Linked DNA regions of Homo sapiens: region 2 is linked to region 1. Evidence: fine-mapped expression QTL. Tissue or cell type: unexposed skin. Region 1 holds a variant in brackets; the other region holds the start of a gene. All regions are shown on one strand. Distances are from middle to middle.

Region 1 (8,000 bases):
TCACCTCAAGTGATCCACCTGCCTCCTCCTCCCAAAGTGCTGGGATTACAGGCGTGAGCCACCGTGCCCAGCTGACAAATGTCTGATTGAGTGTCGAGTCATTTGACTTTAGAACTGATAGAAGAATCAAAAAAATGACAGATGATGAACAGCCAGGGAAAATAAATGAGCATTAAAAGGTAGCAGAAAATTACCAAATGAGCTCCTGTCACTGGCAGTATTAAATGCTGGCCAATCACTCTTCCTTTTCTAACACCCTTCATGGGAAAAGATTTATTATGTCGTAGGGGTTCTGAATTTCCTTCAAGTGTCTGAGGAGTGAGTTAGATCCAGTCATGATAGTTGGATCTCCGTTTTCCGACATTGATTGTAATTGGAAATGGCATACACTTTAGTCACCTACCCTCCCCTTATTTTGATACCATTAGCTCCATCATCTTATAAGTCCGTTGTTATGAGATTGCACTATGTTTGCCCAGCCAATGCCTTCAACTAATCCATGTAGAGCCAGAGAATGGGACATCCTTGCTCTGTAGATCTCATGATAGAACAAAAGGGCAGCATCAGGGAGACATTGGCCCCAGGTGCCTCCCAGCAGGAGATGCCTCTACGTCTGCCCCCTCAGGCTCTGGGCCTCCAATTTCAGTTTTAATGGCAGGATCCCAACCTGCTCCAACTCTGTAGTTCTTTTTTTTGTTTGTTTTGAGACAGAGTCTCGCTCTGTCACCCAGGCTGGAGTGTAGTGGCACCATTTTGGCTCACTGCAACCTCCGCCTCCCGGGTTCAAGTGATTCTCCTGCCCCAGCCTCCCAAGTAGCTGGGACTACAGGTGCACGCTACCATGCCCGGCTAATTTTTGTATTTTTGTAAACGCCCAAGGGGTTCACCTTGCCTGCTGCCTAGACGGAGGCGATTCATGAAAACAGGGGAATTGCAATAGAGAAAGAGTAATTCACACAGAGTCTGCTGTGCGGGAGATGGGAGTTTTATTATTATTCAAATCAGTCTCCCTGAGCATTCAGGGAGCAGAGTTTTTGTTTTGTTTTGTTTTGTTTGTTTGTTTGTGTTTGAGACAGAGTCTCGCTCTGTAGCCCAGGCTGGAGTGCAGTGGCGCGATCTTGGCTCACGGCAACCTCTGCCTCCCCGGTCCTGGTTTAAGCAATTCTCCTGCCTCAGCCTCCCGAGTAGCTGGGATTACAGGCAAGAGCCACCACGCCCAGCTAATTTTTGTATTTTTAGTAGAGACGGGATTTCACCATGTTGGCCAGCTGGTCTTGAACTCCTGACCTCGGGTGATCTGCCCATCTCGGCCTCCCAAAGTGCTGGGATTAAAGGTGTGAGCCACCGCGCCTGGCCAAGGGGAGCAGAGTTTTTAAGGATAACTTGGAGGGTGGTGGGGGAACCAGTAAGCCAGGAGTGCTGATTGGTCAGGGATGAGATCACAGGATGTTGAAGCTGTCTTCTTGTGCTGAGTCAGTTCCTAGGTGGGGGCCACAAGATCAGACGAGCCAGTTTATCGATGTGGGTGGTGCCAGCTGATCCATCAAGTGCAGGGTTTGCAAAATATCTCAAGCACTGCTCTTAGGAGCAGTTTAGGGAGGGTCAGAATCTTATAGCCTCCAAATGCATGACTCCTAAACCATAATTTCTAATCCTGTGGCTAATGTTACTCTAGTCCCTAGGCAAGAAGGAGGTCTGCTTCGGGAAAGGGCTGTTCCCATCTTTGTTTAAACTATAAACTACAAATTAAGTTTCTTTCAAAGTTAATTCAGCCTATGCCCAGGAATGAACAAAGACAGCTTGGAGGTTAGAAGCAAGATGGAGTCAGTTAAGTTAGATCTCTTTCACTCTCAGTCATAATTTTGCAAAGGCAGTTTCATTTTTAGTAGAGACAGGGTTTCACCGTGTTGGCTCATGACCTCAAGTGATCTGCCCTCCTCGGTCTCCCAAAGTGCTGAGATTACAGGTGTGAGCCACCGCGCCTGGCCCCAACTCCATGGTTCTAAGACTTAAAGGAAAGAGTTTAGCATAGAGTCCGAAGGCTGATCTGTCTTGAGAGACCTGGGCAGTCATTCTGCCATTTCCTGGTGTCTGCAAAGCTTTAGACCACACCAGACACTCCCTGCACACGTGGCACCAATGCAGGCTCCCGTCCCTCTGCCATTCCCCACAGAGAGCAGTCGTGGCCTTAGAGTCCCCCTCAACCAAGCCACGACCAGGCAGTTCCAATAGGCATCATCTCCCAACTTTGACTCCAGGGCCTCTCCCAGCTCTGAGGGTCTGAGATTCTGAGGATTTGCCTGGAGGGTTTCTTTAGTCTGGAGCCATTGAGATTAGGAGCCTCACCCCATTCCTTCTCTTACATCCTACAGAAATCAGGGTGAAATGGCCCACACGTGCCGTGGAACCATCAACCTGTCCACCGCGCACATTGACACGGAGGACTCTTGTGGTATCTTGCTGACCAGTGGGGCCAGGAGCTACCACCTCAAGGCCAGCTCAGAGGTGGACCGGCAGCAGTGGATCACCGCCCTGGAGCTGGCCAAGGCCAAGGCTGTCCGCGTGATGAACACTCATTCAGGTAGTGAGCACTTGGGACAGCGGGTGTGTATATGGTGGTGTCATGAGTCTGGAGGAAGTGGGAATTGCAAGCCACTGGTGGGCAGTGGTGGCCAGGAGACCCAGGCCAGCGTGGATCAATCTGGAAGGTCAAGGTGCGTGCATGTTCTGTGCATCGTCAGCAGTGAGAGACTCAGCCATTCTGTCTGGCGAGCAGTTCTTGGCATGGAAATGTTTTTGGTGGGCAGGAGCTGTGTGTGCCTTTCTTTGGGCTAGTCAGGACTTCAGCAGACCCTTCAGATGCTGCAGTGGGTTAGGTCCAGAAGCAGCAGTCAGTCTGTGCCTCAAGCCAGCCGTTTCCCCAGGTTCCCCCATCGTGGAGAGTGAAACCATTTAGCCAGAGCTGCTGTCTTTGCCTATTAGGGAAGCCCGCTCAGATGTCCTGAGCAAGACATTTTGTTTCTTACTTTATAAATTTATTTTATTTTTTGAGATAGAGTCTCACTCTGTCGCCCAGGCTGGAGTACAGTGGCATGATCTCGGCTCACTGCAACCTCTGCCTTCCGTGTTCAAGCAATTATCCTGCCTTAGCCTCCCAAGTAGCTGGGATTATAGGCGCACACCACCATGCCCAGCTAATTTTTGTATTTTTAATACAGACAGGGTTTCATCACGTTGGCCAGGCTGGTCTCAAACTCCTGACCTCACGTGATCCGCCCACTTCAGCCTCCCAAAGTACTGGGATTACAGGCATGAGCCACCGCGCCCGGCCAATAAATTTATTTTTTAAATATGTAATGTTCGGCTGGGTGTGGTGGCACATGCCTGTAATCCCAGCACTTTGGGAGGCTGCGGCAGGTGGATCACGAGGTCAGGAGTTTGAGACCAGCCTAGCCAACATGGTGAAAACCTGTCTGTACTAAAGATACAAAAAATTAGCTGGGCGTGGTGGTGCGTGCCTGTAATCCCAGCTACTCAGGAGGCTGAGGCAGGAGAATCACTTGAACCCAGGAGGCGGAGGTTGCAGTGAGCCAAGATTGCACCAGGGTGAGACTCTGTCTCAAAAAAAAAAAAAAGTAATATTTTAACATGACTCATAAACCAACAGCTTCTAAATCCTACACAGTGAGGTCTTGTCTTTGACTCCTGGTTCCCAGTCACTCACCCCATTCTCCTACCAAGAGGCAGCCAGAGATACTTGTATCTTCACATGTATATTCAAATAGGTACTTATTTCAAAATAACTGCATTCACTGCCTTCTTTATTTTCCATTTAGCAATATGTCTTGGAAATTTTCCCTGTCAATATGTAAAAAGCCTCCTCCTTGTTCTTACAACAGTGTAGTATTTCATTGTATGGGTGGACCATAGTTTATGTAACCTATAGCTTGTTGGTGAGCATTTGGGTTGTTTTCCTTATTTTGTTGTGACATACTGTGCTGCCATGAGTAACCTTGCAAGTACTTCATTTCATGCACATGTGAGTATAAATGAAACTTATGTTCCAGGAAGCCGGCTTGCTGGGTCAGTGGGC[G/A]CGTACATTTGTAATTCTTCAAGGTATTGTCAAACTGCCTTCCACAGGGGTTGTGCCATGGAATGTTAACAGGAGTGTGTGAGGACACACACCTCCCACAGCCTTGCCTGCCCAGAGCTACAGTAAATGTTTCTGATGGTTGAAAAATGTGTCTACACATGCAACAGTGATCCTTCTGAAGTCATTAGTGGAATGGTGTATTCCACAGACCTATGTGTTTGTCTGGGGAGGCAGGGCTCCAGGTGAGAAGGGGGCACAGCCCCTGCTCTCCCAGACTATCTTGGAGACTGGGTGGGGAGATGGTGAGTCCTGTGGAAGGAGCTCCAGCATTTGGCAGGATGAGAGCTAGTGATGTTGGTCCTTATGCCCCATCCCTGTCTCCCATGTTGGGGTCTGTCTCCCAGCTCTAGGGTCTCAGTGAGTATTAAAGGGCACTGAAAACCAGTCTGGCTTTCTCTTTTGTCTCACTCATTTGGAGCATGGGTCACCTGCTTGGTGACTGTTCTCCCTGAGGTGTCAGCACTCATGTAGCTCTCGTATGTCAGCAATGATGCTGAGCTTGACGGCGGTCCCCCGGGTACCACTCCATCACCCAGTGAAGGAGGCAGGTGGGACCATCTCAGACATGGGCTGTGTTGGGACCCCCAGAAGGACCTGTGGTCTCAGTTTGTATGCCTGTGGGAAGCCACTGTGGCAAAATCTGTGGCTGCTGGCACAGCTGGGCTCAGGGCACTCACACTGGCCAAGTAAGGATGCTAACTAGAGATCTAGCTTCCTCTCCCTGGTTTCGCTTTTCTAAGTATAAATAAATAAATAAATGATAAATTGCCTTATTTTTTAGGAACTTCTTGAAAATAATGCAGCAGGTGGCAGTCATGGGATTAGTCATCCGGCAACAGTTTTCCTACGACAGCCAGTGCGAGGGGTTTCTTTTGCAGTTGGCAGGGTGCGGAGGTGAGGGCGGGGAGGAAGGAAGTGCTTGTTAACTCAGCTGGGCAGTGCTGGAGACTGCTGCCCAGACTTCATCTAGGGGAGAAGGGGACCCCTGAGGGAGTAACCTTAGGCTCAGCTTCCTTCATTGTATGAGATGCAGCACAAGTGCCAAGAGGGCAGCCTTCTGGGCAAGGGCACAGGACAGAGACAAATGTCCAGGTAACCCTCAAGGTAGGATTCCTCTCCTGTTGGCTTTTTGAAGCATGAATGAACCATGTATGTGAAGGAAAAGCCTTCAGACGGCTACTCTGTGTTTATGGAAAGATTGGGACCACCTGATTATGTCTTGGAAAATAGCCCTTTTGATGGCCTTCTGTTAAAGGCAAGGTCCTCCTCTCTAAGCTCTCAGGCTGATGTGAGAGAGTTGTGGTTTGTAACTTTTTGCCTGTCTTGGAGTCAGCTTGGGGCAGCCTTGAATGAGAGAAGATGGCCTAATGTCGCTCTCCTTGGGCCTGGCTGATGGTGGCCAGCTGGGTCAAGGACATAGATAGCACTTTAGGCAGGCCACTGTGGGTTATCCCGGGGCCTGTTTTCTTCTCCTGAACTGAGAACCCTGTCTCATCCTGCTGGAAGCCTACTTCCTACTTCTGCTTATCTCTTGAAATCACCTGCTACTCCCCAGCTCTTTTGCCATGCCCTAATCCAAGTACAATCCCCTCCTATCTGGATGTCTATCAGGAGTTCGAGACCACCCTGACCAACATGGTGAAACCCCATCTCTGCTAAAAATACAAAAATTAGCTGAGTGTGGTGGCGCGTGCCTGTAGTCCCAGCTACTTGGGAGGCTGAGGCAGGAGAATCGCTTGAACCCTGGAGGCAGAGGTTGCTGTGAGCCGAGATCACGCCACTACACTTCAGCCTGGGCAACAGAGTGAGACTCTGTCTCAAAACAAACAAACAAACAAACAAACAAATAAATCAACTCTTAGGTGCTATAAACCAACTAGACTTAGCAGACATATACAAAACACTCCACTCAACAACAGCAGATTATAATTTCTTTTCAAGTACACATGGAACATTTTTCAGGATAGACCATATGTTAGGCCACAAAACAAGTCTCAATAAATTTAAAAAAGATTGAGACTATATGAAGTATCTTTTCTGACCGCAGTGGAATGAAGGTAGGAATCAATAACAGAGGTAACACTAGAAAATGCATGGAAGTTAAACAACATACTCTTAAACAATGAGTGGATCAAAGATGAAATCACAAGGGAAATTCGAAAATACATTGAGATAAATGAAAACAAGAACACAGTTTACCAAAATTTTGGAATACGCAAAAGCAGTGCCCAGAGAGAAATGTATAGTTCTATCTAATCCTCATTTGTGTGCCAGAAAAAAATACAAAAAAAAAATTATAGCGCTAAAAGTGTATGTTAAAAAAGAAGGAAAATGAATCTGAAATGAAAAACCAAACTTTATACCCGAAGGAAGTAGGTAAAGAACAAACTAAACTCAAAGCTAGCAGAGGGAAGGAAACAATAAAGATTAAAGTTGGGCTGGGCGTGGTGGCTCACGCCTGTAATCCCAGCACTTTGGGAGGCCAAGGTGGGCAGATCACCTGAGGTCAGGAGTTTGAGACCAGCCTGGCCAACATGCTTAAGCCCCATTTCTACTAAAAAAATTTAAAAATTAAATTAGCCAGATGTGGTAGCAGACGCCTGTAATCCCAGCTACTCAAGAGGCTGAGGCAGGAGAATCACTTGAACCGGGGAGGCAGAGGTTGCAGCAAGCTGAGATCATGCCACTGCGCTCCAGCCTGGGCAACAGAGTGAGACTCTGTCTCAAAAAAAAAAAAAAAAAAAAAAAATTAGAGTTAGAGTAAATGAAATAGAGAATAGAAAAACCAATAGAGAGAATGAATGAAAGCAAAAGTTGGTTCTTTGAAAAGACTGACGTAGTTGGTAAACCTTTAGCTAGACTAAGAAAAAAAGAGAAGACTCGAATTACTGAAATCAGAAATGAAAGTGGGAACATTACTAATGACCTTACAGAAATGAAAAGGGTTATAAGAACAGGATGAAAAGGATTATAATGAACAGTTTATGCCAACAAATTAGATAACCTGGATGCAAATGGACAAACTCTTAGAAACACTCAAATTACAAAAACTGAGTAAAGAAGAAATAAAATATCTTAGCAGACCTACAATGAAGAGGTCATTGAATCTGTAATCAAAGATCTTGAAACTAAGGAAAGTCCAAGACCAGATGGCTTAATTGGGTGAATTCTACCAAACATTTAAAGAACTTGCAAGGCTGGGCCTGGTGGGTCACGTCTGTAATTCCAGCACTTTGGGAGGCCTAGGAGGGAGGATCAACTGAGCCCAGGAGTTTAACACTAACCTGGGCAACATAGTGAGACCCTTTCTTTACAAAAATTTGAAAAATGAAACTAGCCAGGCATGATAGCACATGCCTGTAGTCCCAGCTACTTCAGAGCCTGAGGTGGGAGGATTGCTTGACCCCCAGAGGTTGAGGCTTCAGTGAGCCATGATTTCACCACTGCACTTCAGCCTGAGCAGTGGAGTGAGACCCTGTCTCAAAAAAAAAATTATACCAATTCTTCTTAAATTTTTTCCAAAAAATTGAAGAGGATGAAACACTTTTTTTTTTTTTTTTTTTTTGAGATGGAGTTTCGCTCTTGTTGCCTAAACTGGAGTGCAGTGGTGCAATCTCGGCTCATTGCAAGCTTCACCTCCCAGGTTCAAGCGATTCTCCTGCCTCAGCCTCCCGAGTAGCTGGGATTACAGGCACCTACCACCACACCCGGCTAATTTTTTTGTATTTTTAGTAGAAACGGAGTTTCACCATGTTAGCCAGGCTGGTCTTGAACTCCTGACCTCAGATGATCCGCCTGCCTTGGCCTCCCAAAGTGCTGGGATTACAGGCACGAGCCACTGTGCCCA
Region 2 (8,134 bases), 110 kb before region 1:
GTCAGGCGTGGCGGCGCGTGCCTGCAATCGCGGGCACTCGGCAGGCTGAGGCAGGAGAATCAGGCAGAGAGGTTGCAGTGAGCTGAGATGGCAGCAGTACAGTCCAGCTTCGGCTCGGCATCAGAGGGAGACGGTGGAAAGAGAGGGAGAGGGAGACCGTGGGGAGAGGGAGAGGGAGAGGGCAATAAAATTTATGTATATATAAATTATTATTGTTGCTGAGCAAGGTGGCTCATGCCTGTAATCCCAGCACTTTGGGAGGCCAAGGTGGGTGGATCACCTGAGGTCAGGAGTTCGAGACCAGCCTGGCCAACATGGTGAAACCCCATCTCTAGTAAAAATACAAAAATTAGCCAGGCATGATGGCAGGTACTTGGGAGGCTGAGGCAGGAGAATCACTTGAACCCGGGGTCGGGGGGTGTCAGAGGTTGCAGTGAGCTGAGATTGTGCCACTGCACTCCAGCCTGGGTGACAAGAGCGAAACTCCATCTCAAAAAAAAAATATTACTGTTGTTGGTTTTTTCTCTCTTATTATTTTTTAATTAAATTTAAAAAAGTTTTGGTCGGGTGCGGTGGCTCACCCCTGTAATGCCAGCACTTTGGGAGGCCAAGGCGGGTGGATCACAAGGTCAGGAGATCGAGACCATCCTGGCTGACACGGTGAAACCCTGTCTCTACTAAAAATACAAAAAATTAGCCGGGCGTGGTGGCGTGAACCTGTAGTCCCAGCTACTCAGGAGGCTGAGGCAGGAGGATAGCATGAACCCAGGAGGCGGAGCTTGTAGTGAGCTGAGATCGTGCCACTGCACTCCAGCCTGGGCGACAGAGCGAGACTCTCTCAAAAAAAAAAAAAAATTTTTTTTTGAGGCAGGGTCTTTGTCACCCAGGCTGGAGTGCAGTGGTGCAATCTTAGCTCACTGCAGCCTCCATCTCCTGGGCTCAAGGGATCCTCCCTCCCAATCCCCTGAGTAGCTGGGACTACAGGCAGACACCACCATGCCAAGCTCATGTTTGTTTGTTTGTTTGTTTGTTTTTGAGATGCAGTCTTGCTCTTTCGTCCAGGCTGGAGTGCAGTAGTGCGATTTCTTCCAGGCTGGAGTGCAGTGGTGTGATTTTGGCTCACTGCAAGCTCTGCCTCCCGGGTTCAAGCGATTCCCCTGCCTCAGCCACCTGAGTAGCTGGGACTACAGGCGCCCACCGCCACACCCAGCTAATTTTTGTATTTTTAGTAGAGACGGGGTTTCACCATGTTGGCCAGGCTGTCTCCAACTCCTGACCTTAAGTGATCCGCCAGCCTCGGCCTCCTAAAGTGCTGGGATTACAGGCGTGAACCTCTTCGGCCAGCCTCCCAGCTTATTTTTGTATTTTCTGTAGACACGAGGCTTTGCCCTGTTGCCCAAGCTGGTCTCCAACTCCTGAGCTCAAGTGATCCTCATGCCTCAGCCTCCCAACGTGCTGGGACTACAGGCATGAGCCACTGTACCCAGACTATTGTTTTTTACTAAAGGAGACTTACTAGAAAACTGACAAAATCCAGGCTGGGCGTGGTGGTTTACGCCTGTAATCTCAGCACTTTGGGAGGCCAGGGTGGGTGGATCACCTGAGGTCAAGAGTTTGAGACCAACCTGACCAACATGGTGAAACCCTGTCTCTACTAAAAATACAAAAATTAGCCGGGTTTGGTGGCGCACGCCTGTAATCCCAGCTACTCGGGAGGCTGAGGTAGGAGAACCACCTGAACCTGGGAGGCAGAGGTTGCAGTGAGCTGAGATCGTGCCATTGCACTCCAGCCTGGGCAACAAGAGCGAAACTCGGTCTTGGAAAACAAACAAACAAAAAAACCTGACAAAATATCAAAGATAATTATAACCCTTAGGGGTCCCAGATTTCTCTTCCTCAGGAAATGGCAAGGGGGTGCGGGAGAGGGGCCATCCGCTTTGGCTGGCTTAGTTTCCTTTCCACAACCCTTTCTGGAGAAACACTAAATGCCACCATTTTTTGGTCCTTGGCCTGGAAATTTCCCTATCTGCACCCCCTGCGCTGTAGCTTAGGCTATTCAGCAGAGATCTGCAGGCTCCAGCGGGCGTCGGACTTACAGAGGCAAATGTGACCATGTAAATTCCCAGGCCCACCCGTGACAGAGAGCCTCTGATTCAGCAGGCCTCCTTTGAGGCTGGGGATTTTAAACCCGCGTCCTGTGATTGGGATGGGGATTGAGGGCTATATTCAGCGCCTGGCCACCAGAGGGCGCAGCGGGCTGGGTTCAGCGGTACCCCTTTGAGATCTTGTGTCTCAAGACAGGTTGCTGTCATCAAGGATTTGCTGGTTAGACAACAGGCAAGGGGTGAGCTGGGTCCTCTTGGGCAGGAGCCTAGTAGGAAGACCGACAACAGGAAAGAGGCTCACATCTGATACTGGGCACATGGCTGGGCCTTGGTCCTCGTGCTCCCGGACTTCAGAGCTCAGAGGGGCCAGGGCCTGGCCTAGCCTGGAATCTGGATGGACCTCTTCTGCCCTGGGGCGCGCCGTTTACCCAATCCTGACCTCAGAGAGCGTCTGTCGTTCTGGTGGGAAAACCGAGACCCAGACAGGAACAAGGGCTCAGTGGCAACCGCTCTGCCTCCCAGCCCAGGGCTCTGTCTTGCCGGGGCTGGGGCACAGGGTGGACCCCAGGAAGTTCTGCTATGAGTCAGCTTCGAGTGCTCAGGGGACCGGACAGAGGCTGCTGGCCGGGGAAGGATGCCGGCCGGCGGTACCTACTTCCGCAGCTGTGGGTATCCCTGCCTGGTGATTCAGCTTCCCTCTGAGGGTCCCCAGGGGGCGCCGCCCTGGACTGGGAGGCTGGGGAGGATGCTGGGGCTACGGAGGGGCGATGGAGGTGCCTTAAGGGACCCCGTAATCCAGCTCTGCTGGATGCTGAGGTCCCACGAGATAATTGTGGCCAGAGATCAGGTGGGCGTAAGACTGGTCCTAGGATGGGGGCTGTGGGCCCCTCCTCACTACCCTGCTTCTTGAAGATAGCCTGGGCGGCTGTGCGGGATACCCCAGTGTCTCCAGCAATGCGCGTTCATCTCCATGGAGGGCTCGCCTTGGCGCTGGGTGGGGAGCGACTTGGTCCCCCCTGGCGGCGAAGAGAGGCTGACCACGCCAGCTCGTGGGGGGGTCTACTGGGCAGATGCGCAGGCCCCGGGCGGAGGAGGGCTGATGGGGGAAATGCCAGGCCGATGGGGGAGGGGCTGTGAGCGGGAGGCGTTGGGGCGGGGCAAGACCGCCCTCCCGGTCCGGGGGCGGGGCTTGGCCTGGGGCGGGGCTTGGCTGGGGTGCTCAGCCCAATTTTCCGTGTAGGGAGCGGGCGGCGGCGGGGGAGGCAGAGGCGGAGGCGGAGTCAAGAGCGCACCGCCGCGCCCGCCGTGCCGGGCCTGAGCTGGAGCCGGGCGTGAGTCGCAGCAGGAGCCGCAGCCGGAGTCACAGCCGCAGCCAGAGCCGCAGCCAAAGCCTCAGAGAGCAGGAGTTGGAGCGCAGGCCCTGCTGGATCCGCGCCTAGCTCGCCGCCAGGCACCGGCCGGAGGACGGGCCGTGGTGTCAGCTCACTGCCCGGGCGCTGTGGGAGGCAGCGAGCCCGCGACCCCCCGGGCCGGGCACCGCCAGGCGCGGAGCCCAGATCGCCCCCCTGCCAGGCCTGGTCACGGCCAGAGCACGCAGGAGTTCCCAGGGTCTGGATCTGCGCGCACCCTAATGACCTGGGGACTGAAGAGAAAAAAGGAACGAGGATTTCATCTAAAAGCATAACGTGGGCACTAGGCGAGGAGGAAAGTGGAGACCACCTGGCACGGGGCAGAGGTGCCTGGAGCCCACGCTTGAGCATCGGAGACCCTGGCATCCTAGCAGCCGCGACCTTGGCTCTGCCCTGTCTGAGCTGGAAACACAGCTTAGCTTCTAGACATCGCTGGCACAGGCCTGGCACAAGTAAGCAGTGTCCTCACCTGTCTGAAACGGGACACGGGGTCGGAGGAACCAGGATCTAGCCTGGCCCCAAGCGGAACTCTCTGGTGGCCCAGAGGTCGTCACTGGGGAGCCCGCCTCCTGCCCTAGCCTCACTGGTGCGGATGTGCCGCTGCCCGCCGGAGCACCATGATGGCAGGATGACCTCAGCCGAAGTAGGAGCAGCAGCTGGTGGTGCTCAGGCGGCTGGGCCCCCCGAGTGGCCCCCTGGCAGCCCTCAGGCCCTCCGGCAGCCTGGCCGGGCCCGAGTGGCCATGGCAGCACTGGTGTGGCTGCTGGCGGGAGCCAGCATGTCAAGCCTCAACAAGTGGATCTTCACAGTGCACGGCTTTGGGCGGCCCCTGCTGCTGTCGGCCCTGCACATGCTGGTGGCAGCCCTGGCATGCCACCGGGGGGCACGGCGCCCCATGCCAGGCGGCACTCGCTGCCGAGTCCTACTGCTCAGTCTCACCTTTGGCACGTCCATGGCCTGCGGCAACGTGGGCCTAAGGGCTGTGCCCCTGGACCTGGCACAACTGGTTACTACCACCACACCTCTGTTCACCCTGGCCCTGTCGGCGCTGCTGCTGGGCCGCCGCCACCACCCACTTCAGTTGGCCGCCATGGGTCCGCTCTGCCTGGGGGCCGCCTGCAGCCTGGCTGGAGAGTTCCGGACACCCCCTACCGGCTGTGGCTTCCTGCTCGCAGCCACCTGCCTCCGCGGACTCAAGTCGGTTCAGCAAAGTAAGTGCCTGGGTGGCCAATTGAGAAGGTGGGGGTCCGGGTGGGTGCATGGCCTGGATGGCCCTGTGAGGGGTATGGCTGTTGTCCCATTTTACAAATGAGGAAACTGAGGTTCATGGCTGTGGAGGAAGCAGAACTGAGGCTCAGAGAGGGCCAACAGTTCAGTGAGTTCCAGGCCCCAGACTCAGGCTCTGGAGGCCCAACTCGTGTTTATTTGTTTATTTACTTATTTAGACAGGGTCTGGCTCTGTCACCCAGGCTGCATTGGTGAGATCTCAGCTCAATACAGCCTCCGCATCCTGGGTTCAAGTGATTCTTCTGCCTCAGCCTCCCAAGTAAGTGGGACTACAGGTGCACACCACCACGCTAAGCTAATTTTTGTATTTTTAGTAGAGACAGCATTTTACCATGTTGGCCAGGCTGATCTTGAACTCCTGACCTCCCAAGGTGCTAGGATTTCAAGCGTGAGCCACCCCACCTGGTCAGCTAATTTTTTTTTTTTATAGACACAGAGTCTTGCTATGTTGCCAAGGTAGGTCTTGAACTCCTGTCCTCAGCGATCTTCCCCCCTCAGCTTCCTGAAGTTCTGGAATTACAAACCAGTATTTAGTGATAGCCAGTGATCTGTGTTTGACTAGCCTTTTATCTCACTGTATTGTTCCCATTTGATAGATGAAGAGGCTTGCCCTGGGCCACGTGGCCAGTGAGCAGCAGAGGCAAGATCTAAACCCAGATAGTCAGACTCCATGCTTCCAAGAGATGTGGCCTGAGGCTTTGGACACAAAGGAAAGCCAGAAAGCATGGGCCAGGGAGAGAAAAGGAGGGTCTGGGATGAGCTGGGATTTGGAAGGTCAGGGGTCAGGTCTAAGTCTGGGGAGGGCTGTTGTTTACTGGGAGCTACAGTGTGACAGGCTTGGTGCTGAGTGTTGACCTTGAGTTGTCATGGCAACCACCAACTTTATCCCCATTTTACAGATGATGGGACTAAGACCCAGAGAAGTTCATGATTTGACAGGCTGGGCATGGTATCTCATGCCTGTAATCCCAGCACTTTGGGAGGCTGAGGTGGGAGGACTCTTGAGACCAGGAGTTCGAGACCACCCTGGCCAACATGGTGAAACCCTGTATCTATTAAAAATACAAAAATTGGGGCCGGGCGCGGTGTCTCATGCCTGTAATTCCAGCACTTTGGGAGGCTGAGGCGGGTGGATCATGAGGTCAGAAGTTCAAGAACAGACTAACCAAGGTGGTGAAACCCCATCTCTACTAAAAATACAAAAAAATTAACCGGGCGCCATGGCAGGTGTCTGTAATCCCAGCTACTCGGGAGGCTGAGGCAGGAGAATAGCTTGAACCCGGGTGGCAGAGGTTGCAGTGAGCCAAGATCGCCCCACTGCACTCCAGCCAAGGCGACAGAGTGAGACTCCATCTCAAAAAAAAAAAAAAAAAAAAAAAAATTGGGCCAGGCGCAGTGGCTCACAGCTGTAATCCCAGCACTTTGGGAGGCCGAGGCAAGTGGATCACCTGAGGTCAGGAGTTCGAGACCAGCCTGGCCAACATGGGGAAACCCTGTCTCTACTGAAAATACAAAAATTAGCTGAGCGTGATGGTGGGCGCCTGTAATCCCAGCTACTCAGGAGGCTGAGGTGAGAGAATCGCTTGAACCTGGGAGGCGGAGGTTGCAGTGAGCTGAGATCACGCTATTGCACTCCAGCCTGGGTAACAAGAGTGAAACTCTGTCTCAAAATTAGCCGGGCCAGGTGGCATGCACCTGTAATCCCAGCTACTGGGGAGGCTGAGGCATAAGAATTCCTTGAACCCGGGAGAAGGAGGTTGCAGTGAGCTGAGATTACACCACTGCACTCCAGCCTGGGCGACAGAATGAGACTCTGTCTCAAGAAAAAGAAAGAAGTTCAGCCCAGCGCAGTGGCTCACACCTGTAATCCCAGCACTTTGGGAGGCTGAGGTGTATTGGGGGAAATTCAGCCAGATATCGGGCGAAATTCACCCCTGATATTTCACGTAGGTTCTTTTCTGTATTACCTAAGTGTCAGCTGGTCTGAGAAATAAAGGGACAGAGTACAAAAGGGAGAAATTTTAAAGCTGGGTGTCCGGGGGAGACATCATATGTCGGCAGGTTCCGTGATGCCCCCTGAGCCATAAAACCAGCAAGTTTTGATTAGTGATTTTCAAAAGGGGAGGGAGTGTACCAATAGGATGTGGGTCACAGAGACCACGTGCTTCACAAGGTAATAGAATATCACAAGGCAAATGGAGGCAGGGCCAGATCACAGGACCATAGGACCGGGGTGAAATTAAAATTGCTAATGAAGTTTCGGGCACGCATTGTCATTGATAACATCTTATCAAGAGACAGGGTTTGAGAGCAGACAACCAGTCTGACCAAAATTTATTAGGCGGGAATTTCCTCGTCCTAATAAGCCTGGGAGCGCTATGGGAGACTGGGGCTTATTTCATCCCTACAGCTTCGACCATAAAAGATGGCCGCCCCCCAGAAGCAGCCATTTTAGAGGCCTACCCTCAGGGACGCATTCTCTTTCTCAAGGATGTCCCTTGCTGAGAAAAAGAATTCAGCAACATTTCTCCCATTTGCTTTTGAAAGAAGAGAAATATGGCTCTGTTCCACCCGGCTCACCGGCAGTCAGAGTTTAAGATTATCTCTCTTGTTCCCTGAACATTGCTGTTATCCTGTTCTTTCAAGGTGCCCAGATTTCATATTGTTCAAACACACATGCTCTACAATTTGTGCAGTTAACGCAATCATCACAGGGTCCTGAGGCGACATACAGCCTCCTCAGCTTACGAAGATGATGGGATTAAGAGATTAAAGATAGGCATAGGAAATCACAAGGGTATTGGTTGGAGAAGTGATAAGTGTCCATGAAATCTTCACAATTTATGTTCAGAGATTGCAGTAAAGACAGGCGTAAGAAATTACAAAAGTATTAATTTGGGAAACTAATAAATGTCCATGAAATCTTCACAATCCACGTTCTTCTGCAATGGCTTCAGCTGGTCCCTCCGTTTGGGGTCCCTGACTTCCCGCAACAGAGGTGGGAGGATCACGAGGTCAGGAGATCAAGACCATCCTGGCCAACGTGGTGAAACCCTGTCTACTAAAATTACAAAAATTAGCTGGGCGTGGTGGCGCCTGCCTGTAATCCCCCCTACTCGGGAACCTGAGGCAGGAGAATCACTTGAACCCAGGAGGCAGAGGTTGCAGTGAGCCGAGATCACGCCACTGCACTCCAGCCTAGGGACAGAGCTAGACTCCATCTCAAAAAAAAAAAAAAAAAGAAGAAAGAAAGAAAGAAGTTCATGATTTGCACAGAGGTCACGGGGTCCCTAATGATGTGAAGCATGGTCTATGTGACTCCAGATGCTGGCT

The links. PIP is the estimated chance that this variant, and not a neighbour inherited with it, causes the effect.
Region 2: it holds the start of SLC35E4, and the variant in region 1 is fine-mapped to the expression of SLC35E4 in unexposed skin (GTEx, PIP above 0.99).

Annotation. Positions count from the first base shown.
Region 1 is chr22:30,738,789-30,746,788 of GRCh38, forward strand. It overlaps OSBP2 (oxysterol binding protein 2), which reads left to right. Exons shown (of 14, transcript NM_030758.4): 2 at 2,373-2,581. Among named protein-coding and RNA genes, the nearest start is that of MIR3200, 11 kb to the left of the region's middle. RefSeq lists enhancers at 1,560-1,619, 1,910-1,969. The variant G/A (reference allele first, on the strand shown) is at 4,094.
Region 2 is chr22:30,632,345-30,640,478 of GRCh38, forward strand. SLC35E4 (solute carrier family 35 member E4) reads left to right here and starts at 3,437. Exons shown (of 2, transcript NM_001001479.4): 1 at 3,437-4,725. The coding sequence starts at 4,107. RefSeq lists an enhancer at 2,159-2,863 and a silencer at 3,195-3,644.